Homo sapiens: one gene and its partners. The protein of the gene in region 1 purifies or fractionates together with the protein of each later gene. This does not show direct contact. Each region holds a gene or a part of one and is shown in the gene's direction. Other genes may lie near its edges. The genes, in order: MRRF, IBA57, MMAB, SARNP and ATPAF1.

What was found.
Region 2: the proteins of MRRF (region 1) and IBA57 purify together in Homo sapiens (affinity purification with mass spectrometry; 2 studies listed by BioGRID and IntAct, with this or other methods). This does not show direct contact.
Region 3: the proteins of MRRF (region 1) and MMAB purify together in Homo sapiens (affinity purification with mass spectrometry; 2 studies listed by BioGRID and IntAct, with this or other methods). This does not show direct contact.
Region 4: the proteins of MRRF (region 1) and SARNP fractionate together in Homo sapiens (co-fractionation; one large-scale study listed by BioGRID). This does not show direct contact.
Region 5: the proteins of MRRF (region 1) and ATPAF1 purify together in Homo sapiens (affinity purification with mass spectrometry; one large-scale study listed by BioGRID and IntAct). This does not show direct contact.

Annotation. Positions count from the first base shown.
Region 1 is NC_000009.12:122,313,377-122,316,896, forward strand, and holds part of MRRF (ribosome-recycling factor, mitochondrial isoform 1 precursor), read left to right. Parts: coding exon 1-10; intron 11-3,520. UniProt on the Homo sapiens protein: Responsible for the disassembly of ribosomes from messenger RNA at the termination of mitochondrial protein biosynthesis. Acts in collaboration with GFM2. Promotes mitochondrial ribosome recycling by dissolution of intersubunit contacts.
Region 2 is NC_000001.11:228,168,787-228,172,306, forward strand, and holds part of IBA57 (iron-sulfur cluster assembly factor IBA57, mitochondrial isoform 1 precursor), read left to right. Parts: intron 1-3,520. UniProt on the Homo sapiens protein: Mitochondrial protein involved in the maturation of mitochondrial [4Fe-4S]-proteins in the late stage of the iron-sulfur cluster assembly pathway. Operates in cooperation with ISCA2 in the maturation of [4Fe-4S] proteins.
Region 3 is NC_000012.12:109,559,987-109,563,506, reverse strand, and holds part of MMAB (corrinoid adenosyltransferase MMAB precursor), read left to right. Parts: intron 1-1,654; coding exon 1,655-1,727; intron 1,728-1,989; coding exon 1,990-2,087; intron 2,088-2,177; coding exon of another isoform or gene 2,178-2,264; intron 2,265-2,402; coding exon 2,403-2,467; intron 2,468-3,520. UniProt on the Homo sapiens protein: Converts cob(I)alamin to adenosylcobalamin (adenosylcob(III)alamin), a coenzyme for methylmalonyl-CoA mutase, therefore participates in the final step of the vitamin B12 conversion.
Region 4 is NC_000012.12:55,793,714-55,797,233, reverse strand, and holds part of SARNP (SAP domain-containing ribonucleoprotein), read left to right. Parts: intron 1-1,157; coding exon 1,158-1,209; intron 1,210-2,353; coding exon 2,354-2,427; intron 2,428-2,846; coding exon 2,847-2,875; intron 2,876-3,520. UniProt on the Homo sapiens protein: Binds both single-stranded and double-stranded DNA with higher affinity for the single-stranded form. Specifically binds to scaffold/matrix attachment region DNA. Also binds single-stranded RNA. Enhances RNA unwinding activity of DDX39A.
Region 5 is NC_000001.11:46,634,783-46,637,366, reverse strand, and holds part of ATPAF1 (ATP synthase mitochondrial F1 complex assembly factor 1), read left to right. Parts: intron 1-1,396; coding exon 1,397-1,591; 3' UTR 1,592-2,584. UniProt on the Homo sapiens protein: Has a complex stabilizing activity in the assembly of the mitochondrial F1-F0 complex.

The DNA of each region.
Region 1 (3,520 bases):
AGAGAAACAGGTACTATTGCCAGCAATGTAGTAGTGTCTGTGTATTCAGCATAAGGAATCATTTGTTCATGTTTGAGGTGAGGACAGTTAAAACAGAATACCTCTGATCTTTCATTCACATTATCACCATTGTCTGAGTCTCTGTTCTGGGCCTAGCCTAATGCCAGATTCAGAGGGATCCATAGAGGAGGATAAGACACTTGTATTGTGTACCAGGTTTTGTGCTGAACACTTTATATTACTTCATTTACCCTCATCACTACAAAACTATGAGGTAGGTAGTAAGGAAACTGAGATTCAGGCAAGTTAAATAACTTGCCCGAAATCACACTGCTGGAAATTGGTAGAAATCGGATCCATACTTAGGCAGACGGATTTCAGAGCCTCTACGCTAATGCTCTCCTGTCTGGTTTTCCGGTTGCTGAGAATTGAGCACTTAGTGTTCTCAGTGTGCTGAGTAGTGGCACTTGAATAAGTCTTAAGCTGCTGGAGTAAAATAGTGAGAGACAAGGGGGAAAAGTGTAACCATATGTACAAAGGTAAGGTGATATAAAAACAATATTCAGTTAAGATCATTGGGGTTTGAACGTAGGATAAGACTAGGGAATGAATAAAGAAAACAGAGTGGCTAGATAATAGAAGGAAGGTCTCGTACACCAGGTTTAGGAGTTTGAACGTTAACATGTACAGACTGTCCCACATTGGCTGTGCATCTATATTAGTCATGTATGGCCACAATAATGGTACATAACTACCCCAAAACTCAGTGATCGACAATATCAAAGCATTATTTCTTGTTCTCATTTCCATGGGCCAGCTGGGGTGTAGCTATTCTAGGCTGGGCTCAGTGGGCTTGGCTCCAGATCTTGGATTGGGTTCAAATCTGCTTTATATCTCTCAATCTTCCAAAGCCAACAGGTTTCCTAGGGCCTCTTTTCATGGTAACAGCAGATGCCAAGATCATAAGCCCAACCACTCAAGTACATTTTAAACACCTGCTCTTGTCACATTTGATTGGCCAAAGCAAGTCACATGGGCCAAGCTCAATATGTTTGGTACAAGGAAATATATATATTTATGGAGGTCTGGGGAAAGAAGTGAATATTTGCTGAACAGCATCTCTCTACCAAAGTACCTTAATCACTTGGGTAGCTTATAAAAATCCAGGTATCTGGGGCCCCATTTCCAGAGATTGAGTCAATGAATCTGGGACAGAGCCAGGAATCTGTATTTTAAATCCTTCTCAGGTGATTCTCATACAGTGACACACTTAAAAGATTTTTTTTAGATGATGGAGAGAGCACATCTATGTTTATGAAAGATGACTATGGTGGCCAGGTAGAAAACAGATTGTAGGGGGCAAGACTGGAGGCAGGGCGATAGGGATGCTGCTGCAGAAATCCAGCCAGGAAGTGATGGTGGCCTGAACCTGAGTGGCACCTGTGGAAAGATGTGGAGATAGAATTAGTAATGTTCAATGTAATATAAAGGGTTTGATAGGCCTTAAAGCCTCCTCATCCACAATAAAGCATTGTTTTAGGGAGATTGAACAGGCATGTGGGCTGGATAGGGAGTGAAGAGAGAAGCGAGAAGCAAGGGACCCCTGGAGAAGTCCATAAGTTGACTAGCTGCTCCCCTTCTCCTCCACCAGCAGTTAAAATGCTAGTTTTACTAGCATTTTACTAGTAGGACAGCCACAACAGTCACCTGGGGGGGGGAATTTTAGGTGGCTTCCTGGGCCCTACTCCTGCATTTTCTGATACAGTAGCTCTGCCTAGGAATGTATATTTTTATTTTACTTACTTTTATTAATTCATTTTTCTTGAGATGGGGTCTCACTATGTTGCCCAGGCTGGTCTTGGGCTCCTGGGCTCAAGCAGTCCTCCTGTAGCTGGGATAACAGATGCGTCCAGCTGGAATGTATAGTTTTAAAAAGCTCTCAGGTAATTGTGTAAAAGCACACATAGAAGATAATGACCTAGAAGCCTGGTAATGTACCTGTGTAATGACACTAGAGTTAGAAAAAGATTGTTCTGCACTTGATGTCCTATGACCTTGGGGAAGTTGCTTGACTCTTTGGAGTCTGTTTTCTGTAAAAAGGGATTGGTAATTTCTGCCTTGAATGGTTTCCTTGGTATGCTAGAAAGCACCATTAGTGTACCTAACACCCAAACCCTCAAAACTCCCCTCTTGCCATCTCTCTGCCCTCCTCCTTCCCTGTATCAGCTAAAAGAAGAGGTTCAGAGATTAGGCGGGCCTTTCCTGTGCACTGACCAGGCCTCATTAATAGTCTGGGCCCTGGCTCCAGCTGGGCCGGCTCCTTGTCTTTCTCCTAGGGGATTTCTTCACTGCTTTCCCTTGTCATTGCTTCTTGGTGGTAAGCCTATGGACCTTCAGGGCCTGCCAGGCACTAGTCACTCAGCAAGCCAGGACATCTGCCTCAGGGACCAGAGCCCACAACTCCTGAAAGAGGAAGAATGATCAGATAGCAAGCATTCTTGATAAAACCCTCTTGACAAAGACCTTGCTGGAAGCCTTCACTCATTAGCACTGGCTTTTCGCCATCCTCTTCAGATTAAATTTTTTTTCTTTAGTGCTTCTTACTGTGATTTTTTTAAGTGAAAATAGCTGTATTCGTTTTGCTGTTAAAACAAGGAAGAAAGTAATTGAAATCTCATCACTCAGATGACTGTTGTTAACATTTTAGTGTAGAACTTCAAGTTATCTCTCGAAACAAGAAAAAGTATCATACAATTTATATGATACGATATATCACAGATATCTTTCTAAACATATTATTATTTAAATGTTTATTTTTATTTATTTTTTATTTTTGTCACCCAGGCTGGAGTGCAGTGGTGCAATCTTGGCTCACTGCAACCTCTACCTCCTGGGTTCAAGCGATTCTCCTGCCTCAGACTCCCGAGTAGCTGGGATTACAGGCACGTGCCACCATGCCCTGCTAATTTTTTTATTTTTAGTAGAGATGAGGTTTCACCATGTTTGCCAGGCTGGTCTTGAACTCCTGACCTCAGATGATCCGCCCACCTCAGCCCCCCAAAGTGCTGGGATTACAGGCATGAGTGCCCAGCTAAATGTTTATTCTTAACCAGGATTGTTAATAACTTAATTTACTGTCATAGAGTTAAAAGTTTGGAACAGTAGAGAGCCTTATATATACTTCATGGTGTTCTTTCTACTGTCAGAAGGCCCCAGACTGGAATTTTTGGTGTGTGTGTGTGTGTACGTGTGCGTGCATGTTTTAAAGATATAAAACAAGGTTATGGCTGATTGTCGCTTCATCAGACAGTTTTAAAATTTTGTTTACTTTTGTTCCTTATTATCAAAGTAATATATGTTCATTGGAGAAAGTTCATCCTCCCCTCCCACATTGGAGAGGCAACCGCTCTTAACATTTTGGAATATTTCTTTTTTCCTTTTTTCTAAAAAAAAAAAAAACTACATAGTTTTAAACATGATTGAGAACATATAGTATATATACAATTTTGTATTCAGCTTT
Region 2 (3,520 bases), on another chromosome or scaffold:
GTGACACAACGTCACAGGCCAGGGAGCTCCACTCTGAGGGGTCAGGTGGGGCGGGACCATCCTCCGTGGGATTCAGCATCTGTGTAATAATACTTGAAACCCTCTAGCTTCAGTTCTGTTGGAGTTCATGGCCCTGTTTCTCCTCAGCCGTCAGAAGAGGGACACAACAAGGTTACCTCCTTGAGTGTCTCCCCAGGGGTGGTGGGTGACAGGTGTCCAGATGCCACCCCTCCCAGCTATGTGGCATGGGTGGGCTTAGGGCTGCGCTCGTTGGGCACGTTTAGTTCAGTTCATGAGAGTGTAAACTCTTTTCCTTGTCGGGCTGCTGTTGGCTGTTGACCTCCCTCTCTGTGGTTTGCCCCCTCTGGTCACTCCTCTGGGGAGAGGGCAGCCTGCAGGTCAGGGACCACCTCTCCCTGGAAGCCTCTGTGTGTTCCTGCTTCTCTGGTCATTCCCTGCCCATCATTCCTTTATGGTTTTTTCCTGACTGTAGGATTTTTTATTTCAACTTTGATACTTAATATATCATCCTGAGCCATCGCTTCCTTAAAGCACCCTATTCTTGTTTCCTGAATGTAGCACCTTCTTTCAGATGAAACTATAGTTATTTGGTTGTTGTCTTTTAATAGGAGTTGCTTTTTAGAGCAGTTTTAGGTTCTCAGCAAAAGAGCAGAATGTGCAGAGATTTCCCATATTACCTCACAACTTCCCCCACCAGAGTGCTATTTTCGTCACAACTGATGAACCTCTGTTGACATGCCATCATCACTTGGAGTACAGTTTCCATGAGGGCTCACTCTTGGCTTGGTGTGTTCATGAGTTAGGCAAATGTATGATGACACATGTCTACCATCGTAGCATCACATACAGTAGTGTCACTGCCTTGAAATCCTCTGTGCCCTGCCCATCCATCCATCTCCCCTAACTCCTGGCCACCACTGATGTTTTCAGTGTCTCCATAGTTTCATGCTTTCCAGAATGTCCTGTAGTTGGACTCATGCATCTGTAGCCTCTTCACATTGGCGTTCTTCACTTAGTGATATGCGTTTAGATTCCTCCATGTTTTTTCATAGCTTGACAGCTAATTTCTTTTTTTTTTAGACAGAGTCTTGCTCTGTCCCCCAGGCTGTAGTGCAATGGCGCAATCTCGGCTCACTGCAACCTCTGCCTCCCAGGTTCAAGCGATTCTCCTGCCTCAGCCTCCTGAGTAGCTGGGATTACAGGCATGCACCACCACGCCCAGCTAATTTTTGTATCTTTTTTTAGTAGAGACGGGGTTTCACCATGTTGGTCAGGCTGGTCTCGAACTACTGACCTCATGATCCGCCCGCCTCGGCCTCCCAAAGTGCTGGGATTACAGGCGTGAGCCACGGCGCCCGGCCGACAGCTAATTTCTTTTAGTACTGGTTAGTATTCCATTGGATGGACCACAGTTTATTTGTCCACTCATCTACTGAGGGACATATTGGTTGCTTCCAAGTTTTGGCAATTATGGATAAAGCTGCTGTAAACATCCATGTGCAGATTTTCATATGGGTCTGAGTTTTTTTGTTTTTATTTTTTAGACACAGGGTCTCGCTCCATTGCCCAGGCTGGAGTGCAGTGGCACAGTTGTAGCTCACTGTACCTTCAAACTCCTGGGCTCAAGTGATCCTCCCACCTCAGCCTCCCAAGTAGCCAGGACTACAGGTAGTTGAGGTCTCACTATGTTGCTCGGGCTGGTCTTGAACTCCTGGGCTCAGGCGATTCTCCTGCCTCAGCTTCACAAAGTGTTGGGATTGCGGGCATGAGCCACCATGCCTGGCCTCCTTAGGGTCCCTTTCTATCAGTTGGTTTTGATCTCTCTTCATGTAGGAGGCAGAGAGAGGCTGTAGGGTCATGTTGCAGGTAGGATTGTGGTCCAGTGGCCTTGCTGCGAGCTGGCCGGGGCAAGGATGTGGACTCAGTGCAGGGCTCAGCAGGCCCAAGAGTGTCAGGGCTGTGGCCTTGTGTCTGGCCAGCACTGAGGAGCAGGAGAGACTTGTCAGGCCTCTGGTGGCCTGGGGAGGAGGGAGGAGAGAGAAGGGAAGGAGTCAGGCCGGGTCCCAGAGCAGTGTTTTCCTGAACATGACTGGAAACCCTTGGATCTGATGGCCAGGGGACCCTTTCTTTCAGTTGGCTGGGCCAGAGCCACCCCTGACCTCCCTCCTCTTCCTGCACCCTTGCTCCCACCGGGGCTTCTGGGCTCAGCAAACAAAAGCACAGGACACCCAGGTCCGTCTCAGACGAGCAACGGATGATCTGTAGGTGCATCCTATGCGGTATTTGGGATATACTAAAAAAAGTAATTTGTTGTCGATGTGAAATTCTGATTTAACCAGGTACCCTATATTTTCTTTGGCAACCCTGTCCCCTGCGCCCCTCAGCGGTATCTGGAAATATTTTTGGTTGTCATGATGGGGTGGGGTACAGGCCAGGGGTGCTGCTTAGCATCTGGACAGCCCCCACTATGGAGAATGATGAGGCTGAGAAAGCTCCCCAGGCCGGGGCTCTCCTGTGAGGCAAGTCTCCTGGCAGTCTTCAGGTGTGGCAGGGGTTGGGGTGGGCCCGGGGGTCATGTCCCAGCTCAGCTGGTCCTGAGAAGCTGCCTGGTAGACAGTCACCGGCACAGAGAGCTGGAAAGTGCCCTCGACCCCAGAACCTGGGTCCTGTGAGGACATCCACCCTGTGTGAGGCCAGGGAGTGCTCAGCAGATGGGGGCAGCAGGGGGTGTCAGCATGGGTGGGGGTTCCTGCCAAGGCAGGCAGCTGAGCTGGCCCCACCTCAGAGTGCAGGGGCCCTCAGCTTGATCTTTTCTGGGCTCCACTCTTGACTGATGGACCCATGGGGCACCCTGGCCCCACCCTGCCTGCCTTGCCCCAGCTCCTGCCCTTGCCCTGTAGGGCTCTGCGGCCTCCCCTGTGCCTGTGTGCCTGGCTCACTAGACCCTGGACCTGTGGTCCCTCAGCTCCACTCTAGTCCCCTTACTCTGTCCCTCTACTGCCTGGCGTCGCTCAGCTCCTCCCTGCCTGTCCGGCGCCCAGCATCCTGTGCCCATGACCTCACATCTGTCCCTCTGCCCGGGTCCCCCACTCACCTGTGTTTTGGTCCATCTTTGTCTGCTGACCCCACTATAGATTTTAAAAATACAAATATGCATGCACGTGGTTAAAAACTCGCTGATGTCAGATGGCTGGGATGAAAGGACTGCCTGCTGCCTTTCCTCTTGTAGTGCTCGGACACCTCTGCAGGCGAAGCTCCTTGTTTTTTTTTTTTGTTGTTGTTGTTGTTGTTTTTTCACTTCTTATTTTGAAATAATTATAGATTCACAGGAAGTTGCAAAAAAAAAAACAAAACAAAACCCGTGGGAGAGATCGCACGGACCCCTCCCCAGTTCCCCTGATTGCACACACAGGGCATATCTGGGGTCTCTGGATTTGTGTGTCTTACTTTGTGCGTCTGTGCACGCATGTGTATAACTGCAGTTTTATCACGTGTGAAT
Region 3 (3,520 bases), on another chromosome or scaffold:
CACCCAGCCTTGGCACTGTGAGGGCGGGGACAGTGTCTGGTTCACCTGGGAGCCCCGCCTGGCCTGGTAGCCGCTCGCAGGGCCTGTGGATGAGGCCGGGCAGCAATGCCACTGCTTTCCTCATATCACCCATTTCACCCTCACAGACACCCGTGAGGTGGAAGTTAATGTCCACAGCTTATAGGGAGCCAAACTGAGCCTCAGAAAGGCTGACTTGCCCAGCCCCCACAGCCAGGCATCAGTAGAGCTGGAATCTGATTCCCAAACTGGTGCCATTTCTCCCCAGCCCTTGGGGTACACGCTGCACGTGGCCAACCAAGTGGGTAGTATTATCACTCCCGCTTTGACTGTGAAAGTGCAGAGACCCCAAGCAGGGAAGCAGCTTGCCCAAGGTCTGCTGGTCAGAAGCCCTGGGAAGGTTCCAGCCCAGTGCTGGATGGGCAGCCTCTGCTCTCACACACCATGGCCTGCTTCTTGAATGCTGTCACAGTGGCCATCTTAGGAGAGGTCAGAAGTCGCAGACCTTCACCCTCCTGGTAGCCCACCATCCAGCTTGAGTGGACCCTGGCTGGGCACAAAGTCAGAGGTGGTACTTGTGGTCTTCACATGCATGAGAGCTGTTGGACATTTGTCATGCAGGGGCCTGGAGTCCTGCAGCAGACCTTAACAGACCACTTCTGTTCCAAGCAAACCCACTCCCCACCTGGACAGAGCACAGGCCTCACCCAGCCAGGCTTCCTGCTCCCAGAATCCCCACACGCCTCGGCTGACTACATTCTCCAAGCTCCTTGTCCTTTAGAGTTTAGAAAGCACTGTCACATTTGACCTCTTGGCCCAACTGTTACAGGTTAGAAAACCAAAGCTGTCAAATGTTGAGAAAAGAAGAAAACCTCACAGGGCCTAGGTGCACAGGAGACGTGGACAGAGCCCAGACGGTTCCTCTTGACTGTCCCTGGGTGTGTGATGCGTGTCATCTGCTTAACCCAGCTGCTGCCCCCATGGGAGCCTTTTCCTCCCTCAGACTGCAAAAGAGCCACACCAGGTCCCCCTCAGCAGGGCTGGGTGTCCAACGAAGATGTTGTGCTGAAAGTTCAGAGTTTGCTTTCAAATGTCAGCCAGTTCAAGGTCTGATAGCCTGTATTAGTCTGTTCTCGCACTGCTATAAAGAACTACCTGAGACCGGATAATTTATAAAGAAAAGAAGTTTAATCTGCACATGGTTTTGTGGGCTGTACAGGCTTCTGCTTCTGGGGAGGCCTCAGGAAACCTACAGTCATGGCGGAAGGCAAAGGGGAAGCAGGTACATCTTCACATGGCTGATAGGAGAGAGAGAGTGTGAAGAGGGAGGTGCTACACACTTTCAAACAACCACATCTCATGAGAACTCTATCACAAGACAGCACTAGGGGGCTGGGGCTAAACCATTCAAAACTACCCCAATGATCCAATCACCTCCCACCAGGCCCCACCTCCAACTCTGGGGATCACAATTTAACATGAGATTTGGATGGGGACACATTGCCAAACCATATCACAGCCCTTCATGAGCTAGCTGGCACAGGCTTTGCCGGCGTATTAGGTGGCGCCTCTGCACATTGTCTCTGTCCAGCCCATCTCACATAGATCTTGACTGTCACTTTCTGTCGCCCCCCAGATCCAGTGCACATTGCAGGACGTCGGCTCGGCCCTGGCGACACCATGCTCCTCGGCCCGGGAGGCTCACTTAAGTAATTCTCAAACTCCTGTGGGTGTTCAGAGGGCCCTAGGGTCAGGGGACTCTCCTAGGGTCACCATCTGGGATCCCAGGCCCCCAGGGACCCACGGGTGGGTCAGTTAGCCTTGCTCGTAGCTCCTGGGAGGGAAGGTACCTTCTGAGCCAGTGGAAGCAGTCTGCGGGACACCCAGGTGGAAGGGCGGCGGGGGTGGTTCCCGCCATGGTCTGGTGGGTGATGGCCTCATGGCAGTTCCCTCTGCTCCTTGGCTCCTCAGAGTATACCACGTTCAAGGCGGGGCCCATCCTGGAGCTGGAGCAGTGGATCGACAAGTACACCAGCCAGCTCCCACCACTCACGGCCTTCATCCTGCCTGTAGGTACTGGGCAGGCTTAACCGGGGGCGGCTGCAGGCAGGTTCAGTGACAGACACACATGGGCTCTGAATAAATCCCTCTTTTCACAGTGACAGACGCTGTCCTCCAGTTCCCCAAGTCCCTCCAGGTCCTCACCGGTCCCTCCCAGCCCTGCCCACTCTGGAGCAGCGTGCCCGGTGGGTGTGCCGTGGCAGGGCTCCTGGAGGCAGAACACTGCCCGGTTTGGGGGGCAGGGCTGGACTTCAGAGGAGCTCCTGTCCGCAGTGGGCACACCTTTCCCACCCTGCTCAGGCAATGTCCCTTTCTCCTTTCAGTCGGGAGGCAAGATCAGCTCGGCGCTGCATTTCTGCCGGGCCGTGTGCCGCCGGGCCGAGAGACGGTAAGAGGGCTGGAGAGAGGGAGAGGGCCCAAGGGAGAGGGAGAGGAACAAGGGGGAGGGGGGAGGGAGAGGGAGAGGAGGACGGAGATGGGGAGAGGGAGAGGGGCCTCTGCACAGCGGGCAGGAGGCAGGTACAGCAGGGCCATCTCTGAGCCATCCAGCCACACATCAACAGACCTTGTCTGGGCCCCTCCACTGTGCCAGACGGGGACCAGGACAGACCAAGTCCCTGTCCTCAGAGCACCATGTTGTGAAGTGGAGACAGTGACATGTGACCAAATAGACTATCAGACAACACAATTGCACCTTGTTTGTGAGCCCTGTATTCTGAGAACAGCAGGAAGTTATTGCTGGGTTCTCAGCCTCAGCCATCTTGGGGACAGGGGTAGACATGAAAGGACCCTGCTGGCTGCTGGGTGCATAAGGCTCCTGAAAGGCCTGCATGGCTGTGGGGAGCCCAGGTGGACGTTGTCAGCAGACTAGCCACCACCTCCTCCAAAGCTACTGACAGCCTTTTCAAGGAATCTTTAGAAGAAAATGAGCAAAGTCTCTATCTACACCACTCAGAGACCAGGCTGCCAGCCAGCTTTACAGAGAAGAGAAAGCAAGCCCTACTTTGATCCAATGGACTGGCACTTTATGTTCATAATTTCATTTACTCCTTGTTGATAGCCCTGGGAGAGAGGTGGTGGTGGCCTCTGTTTTACAGGAGTCAGGAAGCTGTGGCTCAGAGAAATGACACCATGGTCACGGTCCCCCACATGGTTGATAGCAGAATCCAGATTGGAGTCCACGTCTGTCTGGGCCAAGCCTGAGCTCTTCCACGGTCCCACACCACTAAGGTTTTGTTCTTTATGAAAGGCTCTCGGGCCCAGATAGCTCCTTAGAGATCCCAGGTAACAGAACAAGCTTTGGCTTCAAAAGAAAAAACTGTCATTTGTACAAAGCCATCCATCAGCAGTGCTCATAATAGCAAGAAACTGGAAACAACCCAAAGGCCCCGAAAACAGGCATGGCGGAGCAGCTGATAGGTCCTCCATGCAGCAGAGAGTT
Region 4 (3,520 bases), on another chromosome or scaffold:
GGTGGAAGAGAGTAAGTTCTTATTCCAGAATTGCTTCCTCTGAAAATGTCATTAAACCATTACTACCTTTCAGGGCATCAAATGGGAAAAGTGTTCAGGATATTGGAACAAAAGCTGCCCATGTCTCTAAATGAGGGACCTTAATGAGACTGGTTATGACCCACAGTTTTATGGGAGTTGTTTGGTGGAGGGTTAATGCCCTTCCATTTATCGTGGGTACTTCCGAACTTTGTCTCCCGCCCCTGTGGTCCCCCCTCTTTTGTTTCCTCTTAAACCTTTGACCACTAGCTTACCATGTTTTCCTAATTCAAACTCCCCTTAGACTTTTTTCTTCCTACCTTCTTTGGCATTTTTATTTGTTTCACTTTGACTGTTCCAGCTAGAGCTACATTCCCCATGGGAGAAATAAGGGATTTTTAAAAGAAGGAAACCAGACCTTGTAGAGTACTTATTAATTGTTGTGATGAACATTGGGAGGTGGTACTTAAAGGAGGATTGGAGGGTTACTCATTAGTTCAAAAGTAAATTAAAGGCTGGGCTCGGTGGCTGATGCCTGTAATCCCAGTACTTTGGGAGGCCGAGGTGGGTGGATCACTTGAGGCCAGGAGTTCGTGACTAGCCTGGCCAACATGGTGAAACCCTATCTCTACTAAAAATACAAAAATTAGCTCGGCGTGGTGGCAGGTGCCTGTAATTCCAGCTACTCAGGAGGTTGAGGCAGGAGAATCTCTTGAACCCAGGAGGTGGAGGTTGCAGTGAGCTGAGATCGTGCCATTGCACTCCAGCCTGGGCGACAAGAGCAAAACTCCGTCTCAGAAAAATAAAAGTAAATTGAAAAGTTCCTAAAAGCAAATGAGATGGTTTCTGGTGTCCTTTGAGTGTTTCCCTTCAGCCCAGTATATTTAACCAGACTTCTTTCCTTATTTCTTTATTATACTTTAGCTAAAGAAGCTTAGTTTGTTATTTGAACTCTTTCCTCTCAATAGATGACAGTTAAAGGAACCAAAGCTCTAGTGGACTTCATGTTTCTTTGGCTTAGGGGGTGGCAGAGAGATAATAGGGCAGAGAATGGTGACTCAGGTGAATTCTTACACATTTCTGAGGTTGTGGTTTAGAATATCAGTTTTCTCATTTTAAAAAATCTCTTTCTTTTCTAGGGCAGCAGAGAAGAAAGTGGTGAAAATTACATCTGAAATACCACAGACTGAGGTAGGTATTCTGCTCCCTAGTAGAACAGTCTCTACATTTCTCTCTCCCTCTTACCCTTTATTATATCTGCATCATCCTCTAAAATTTATTCACAGGCAGAAAATCAGTATTGGCAGATTTTGGTGTTGATACGTTTCACTGCCAGCTACTCTTTGGAAAATATTTGGCTGGCGTAGGGGTAGTCATTCTTGAAGTTGTAGTCTTTTTATATGTAATATTATGGTCTTAACAGTGACTCTCTTTGAGATGTTTTCAAACCTAGGATTAGATTTAGGAGGATTGTACCTTGAAAATGTATTGGTAGATGTGACTCTTATGTTGCTACTGGCCAGTAGCTGAGATTGAAATTTCTCTGGTTTCTGTGGTGCAGGACTGTGAAACCAGGTTCCATTTGAGATCTTGTGTTCAGTATCATACTTGCAAAGTAGAGAATTATTAAACTCTTTTAGAATGGCATAAAACAATGCTGCCTCATTTCTAACTGAAAGAATACCATTGGTGTTGGAACCAAGCTATTCCTTTGATCACTTTTCAAAGGTCAGCCAAACATAGCTTTTGACTTCTTGGCTTCATGCATAATGTAGGTTTTACTTTATTTCTCCCTTTTGTTTTTGAGGGCATCTAGTAATAGTCTTTTTTTGTTTGCTTTGTGGGAAGGGCCGTTAAGTCCTAGCATGGACACAACCTGATATCTTCTAGGATTGTCAGTATTTTCAGTTTAGACCCTAAGAAATTACTTCTGATGTTTTTAAGATACCTACCTTTGGCTGGGCCAGGTGGCTCACGCTTGTAATCCCAGCAGTTTAGGAGGCTGAGGTGGGCAGTTCACTTGAGGCCAGGAGTTCAATATCAGCCTGGCCATCATGGTGAAATCTCATTTCTACTAAAAGCACAAAAATTAGCTGGGCACAGTGGCACAGTCCTGTAATCCCAGCTACTCAGGAGGCTGAGCCACGAGAATCGCTCGAACCCAGGAGGCTGAGGTTGCAGTGAGCCGAGATCATGCCACTGCACTCCAGGCTGGGGGACAGAGTGAGACTCTTTTTTTTTTTTTTTTTTTTTTTTTTAAAGATACCTACCTCTGACTGACTTTCTTAAACCATAAATTGACTTTTTTTTCTCCCTTTTGTCTATTTTTACTTAGAGAATGCAGAAGAGGGCTGAACGATTCAATGTACCTGTGAGCTTGGAGAGTAAGAAAGCTGCTCGGGCAGCTAGGTGAGTGTCCCCAGCCTTTTGGGCCTCTGATAGGGGTGTTGTAAAGATGAAGATGTGTGATCCTAGCTTTTAGGTATAATTGTTGATTTTAAGTAGAATAGAGGCTTGCTGAAGGATATGAACACTTTTTTGACCCTATTCAGAACATGTCTACTGATTTGGTTATAGTAGCTATAAATTGAGCTTTATTGAGAAGGGTTTTTGTAACAGTTAAAGCCAGGAACTGACTACTACTAATTCTGATAAGGCTTCCTTTTAGCTTAATTTCTGAACCTCTTTCATGGGGTTGTTAGAATTAGCTAATGATTGCAAGGCTTGAGATCACAAGCAAGAAGTGTCATATGTATACTTGACACGGAGACAGACAAACCAGGAGTGTGAACAGCTTCCTAAAATTTAGTTTGTTTTTCCTTCTTCAGGTTTGGGATTTCTTCAGTTCCAACAAAAGGTAAGAGTACAGAGATACTTCTGAGAAAGTTACCTTTTTATTCTTTCTTTTCTGGTATAACAGGTTTTATTTCTCCAAAATAAGGTAAATTTGCTAGCTGTAGAAACTCTTTAAGAGATTGTAACATTCATCTCCTGCTTTAGGTAAAATTATACTTAGGCCTTCCTGGGCAATTAAGAGAGATACTGAATGTTATGAGAGGATAGGAAGTGCCAACATTTGTCTGTCTTTTCTTGAACATCTTCAAAGAAGTTTCTCTAGTACTTTGCTTACTTATTCTGGGGTCTCAACTGCATAAAATTATTGCATACTATCTAGTGTTATACTGGCTATTATAAGTGATAAAAGGGAAAAGAATATCTTCTACCTTAACAGTTTTACTTCTAGGAACGTATAAGGAAATAGTCTTGAATGTGCATAAAGACTTAGCCTCAGGGATTATCACAGCATTATTTATAGTGATCAATAACTGGAAACAACCAACTGTACAACAGAGAATTAGTTATTAAATGTGTGCCATGGTATAGCAGACTACTGTGCTGAAATAATATTGAAAGATATTTATCAGAGATATTAATGAAAAAAGTTACAAAATTATATTAACAGTACGTTCCCATTTTAGTCATGTAAGAGTGCATGTATAGA
Region 5 (2,584 bases), on another chromosome or scaffold:
CCTCTGTTACCCAGGCTGGAGTGTGCTGGCATGACCATAGCTCAGTGCAGCCTCAAACTCCTGGTCTCAAGCAATCCTCCTGTCTCAGCCTCCCGAGTAGCTAGGACTACAGGCTCATGCCACCACATCTGGCTAATTTCTCTGCCTCTGTCATGTAGGGTGGCCTGCTCACCATTTCTCTGCTATTGCTCACCATTTCTCTGCTACTGCCCTTCTCTTCCCTGGGCCTTTGCTGATGTATTAGTTATAAATGGCTGCATAACAAATTATACAAAATCTAGTGGCTTAAAACAACAAACATTTATTACCTCGCAGTTTCTGTAGTAGCAGCTTAGCTGAGTGGTTCTGGCTCAGGGTCTCACAAGGTTGCTGTCAAGATGTTATCTAGGGGTATAGTCATCCGAAGGTTGATTGGGCTTGAGCGTCTGCATCCAGCCCCACTCACATGGCTCTTGGCAGAGGCCTCATGTCTTTGTCGTGTTTCTCCATAGGGCTGCATGAATGTCCTCACTACATGGCAACTGACTTTTCCCAGAGCAAGAAAATTAGCAAGAGAAAAGTTACAACCTTTATGGCTTGATAGCAGAACTCATTCTCCATCATTTTTCATTTTTTCATAGTCTTTTTTTTTTTTTAAGGGGCTCACTACATTACCCAGACAGGCTCAAGCAATCCTCCTACCTCAGCCTCCTGAGTAGCTGGGACTACAGGCTCACACCAATGCCCCCAACCATTTTGTCATAGTCTACTTGTTAGAAGGAAGTCACTGAGTATAGCCATTACCCAAGGAAAGGGAAATTAGGCTCCATCAAAGGGAGGAATATCTTAAAATTTGTGGGCAAATTTTAAAACCATCACAGCTGGCTCTGGGAGTACTTTTCTGACCAAGGTAGTATCATAACAGGTTTTATTCAAGTGTATATCTGGTTAGTCAAGAACTTAGTTCTCACTCACAAACTGGTTCTTAGAGCTGGGTAACTGTTGCTGTCTTATTCCCCCCTTGAAATATATTTAACAGTTATTAGGGAACTGGATGAAGAGGAATAATGTGAACATGTACATTAATTTATTCAGTAAACATTCACCAGATGTCACTCTGCAGAGATATAAAACAAACCACGGTCTATGTCTTTGAGGAATTTGTACTAGGGAAAATAGACAAAAAAAGAAAAGGAAAAATACAATACAGTGTGATAAATACTATGACAGTGGTAAGCACAGGATGATTTGGTACACAGAGAAGGGGCACCTAACCAAGACTAGGGACTTCAAGAAGTTAAGGAAACTTTCTGGAAGTGGTGACTCCTGGGCGAGGGCCCCCACCCACCACACAATTCAGACAAGAGCTTTGTGGCCCTGTGCAAGAAAGGACCTCATTATTCTTTTTACCTTACAGAATGTTGCTGAGGCACAGTGCATCGCCAACCAAGTTCAGCTCTTCTACGCTACTGATCGGAAAGAGACCTACGGGTTAGTGGAGACCTTTAACCTCAGACCAAATGAGTTCAAATATATGTCTGTCATCGCTGAATTGGAGCAAAGCGGACTTGGAGCAGAACTGAAATGTGCCCAGAACCAAAATAAGACTTAGAACTGTACAGGTTGGCCCTTCACCTAGTTGACTCAGCCCTCGATAGTCTAGAGCCCACCCCCTCCTCAGGAACTCAAGAGCTCAGCATTTATAATGAGCAGTTGGTAATGAGTTGCCCTATGTGCTTGTCGCAAGCAGTCACAGAGATGAGCCCTATTACTTGATATTCAGGAACAAAGGTACCTGAACATTCTGATAATTATCTCAGCATACTTGAGGTTTCCTTTTTTAAGTGTTCGAGGTTATAACAAGAGACAGCCAAGGACCTACAAGACAGTTGACTTGATTTTGCACAGTGTAACAGCGCAGTTGCATTCTGGCCACTTTGACCTTATAGCTCCCAAATGATGAGTTTGTCATCTTTATGAACTCATGACAGGATAATAAGCTTGAAGACCTGCTGTAGTTAGATATGGGCTTTAATCCTTCCCAGGCACCAGTCAGCTGAACAAAAGCATAAGCCAAACATCCTGTTTAAACTGTAGAATAACCAGATATTCCCATCAGGTTAAAGACTTCATCTAGATGATGCCCCCCAGAGATGCCTTTAGTGTAAGTAGCTGGCTTGGGGTATCAGCAAATTTCAGGTATAGTTAGATAAACAGGTACAGGGCCTGCATACTATTAAACCATAGTTTGTGGCACCCGCTTTTCTAACTCCACCTGTTAGAAGCTATGTGTTTGAAGGAATGAATCAGTGCAGTATAAATAAAATTCTTTTGTAAGGAGAAGATTAATCCTGGTTTGCATGATTTTTTTAAAAACAACTCTAAACATGATACGAAAAAGTGGATGAAAGCAAATGTTCCCAGATTGGATGTGGGGAAAATATAGCAATAATTTTTTTTTTAAGTCTGGCTTACAATGTTTGTTATACAAAATAATGAAATCTGAGTTATGTACTGTCCATTGTGTCAGGGCTATGGGCTGATTTTATCAAAACTCATCTTGGGACTGAAAAATTGTTTGGAATGCCAGAAATAAGAAAGTTGT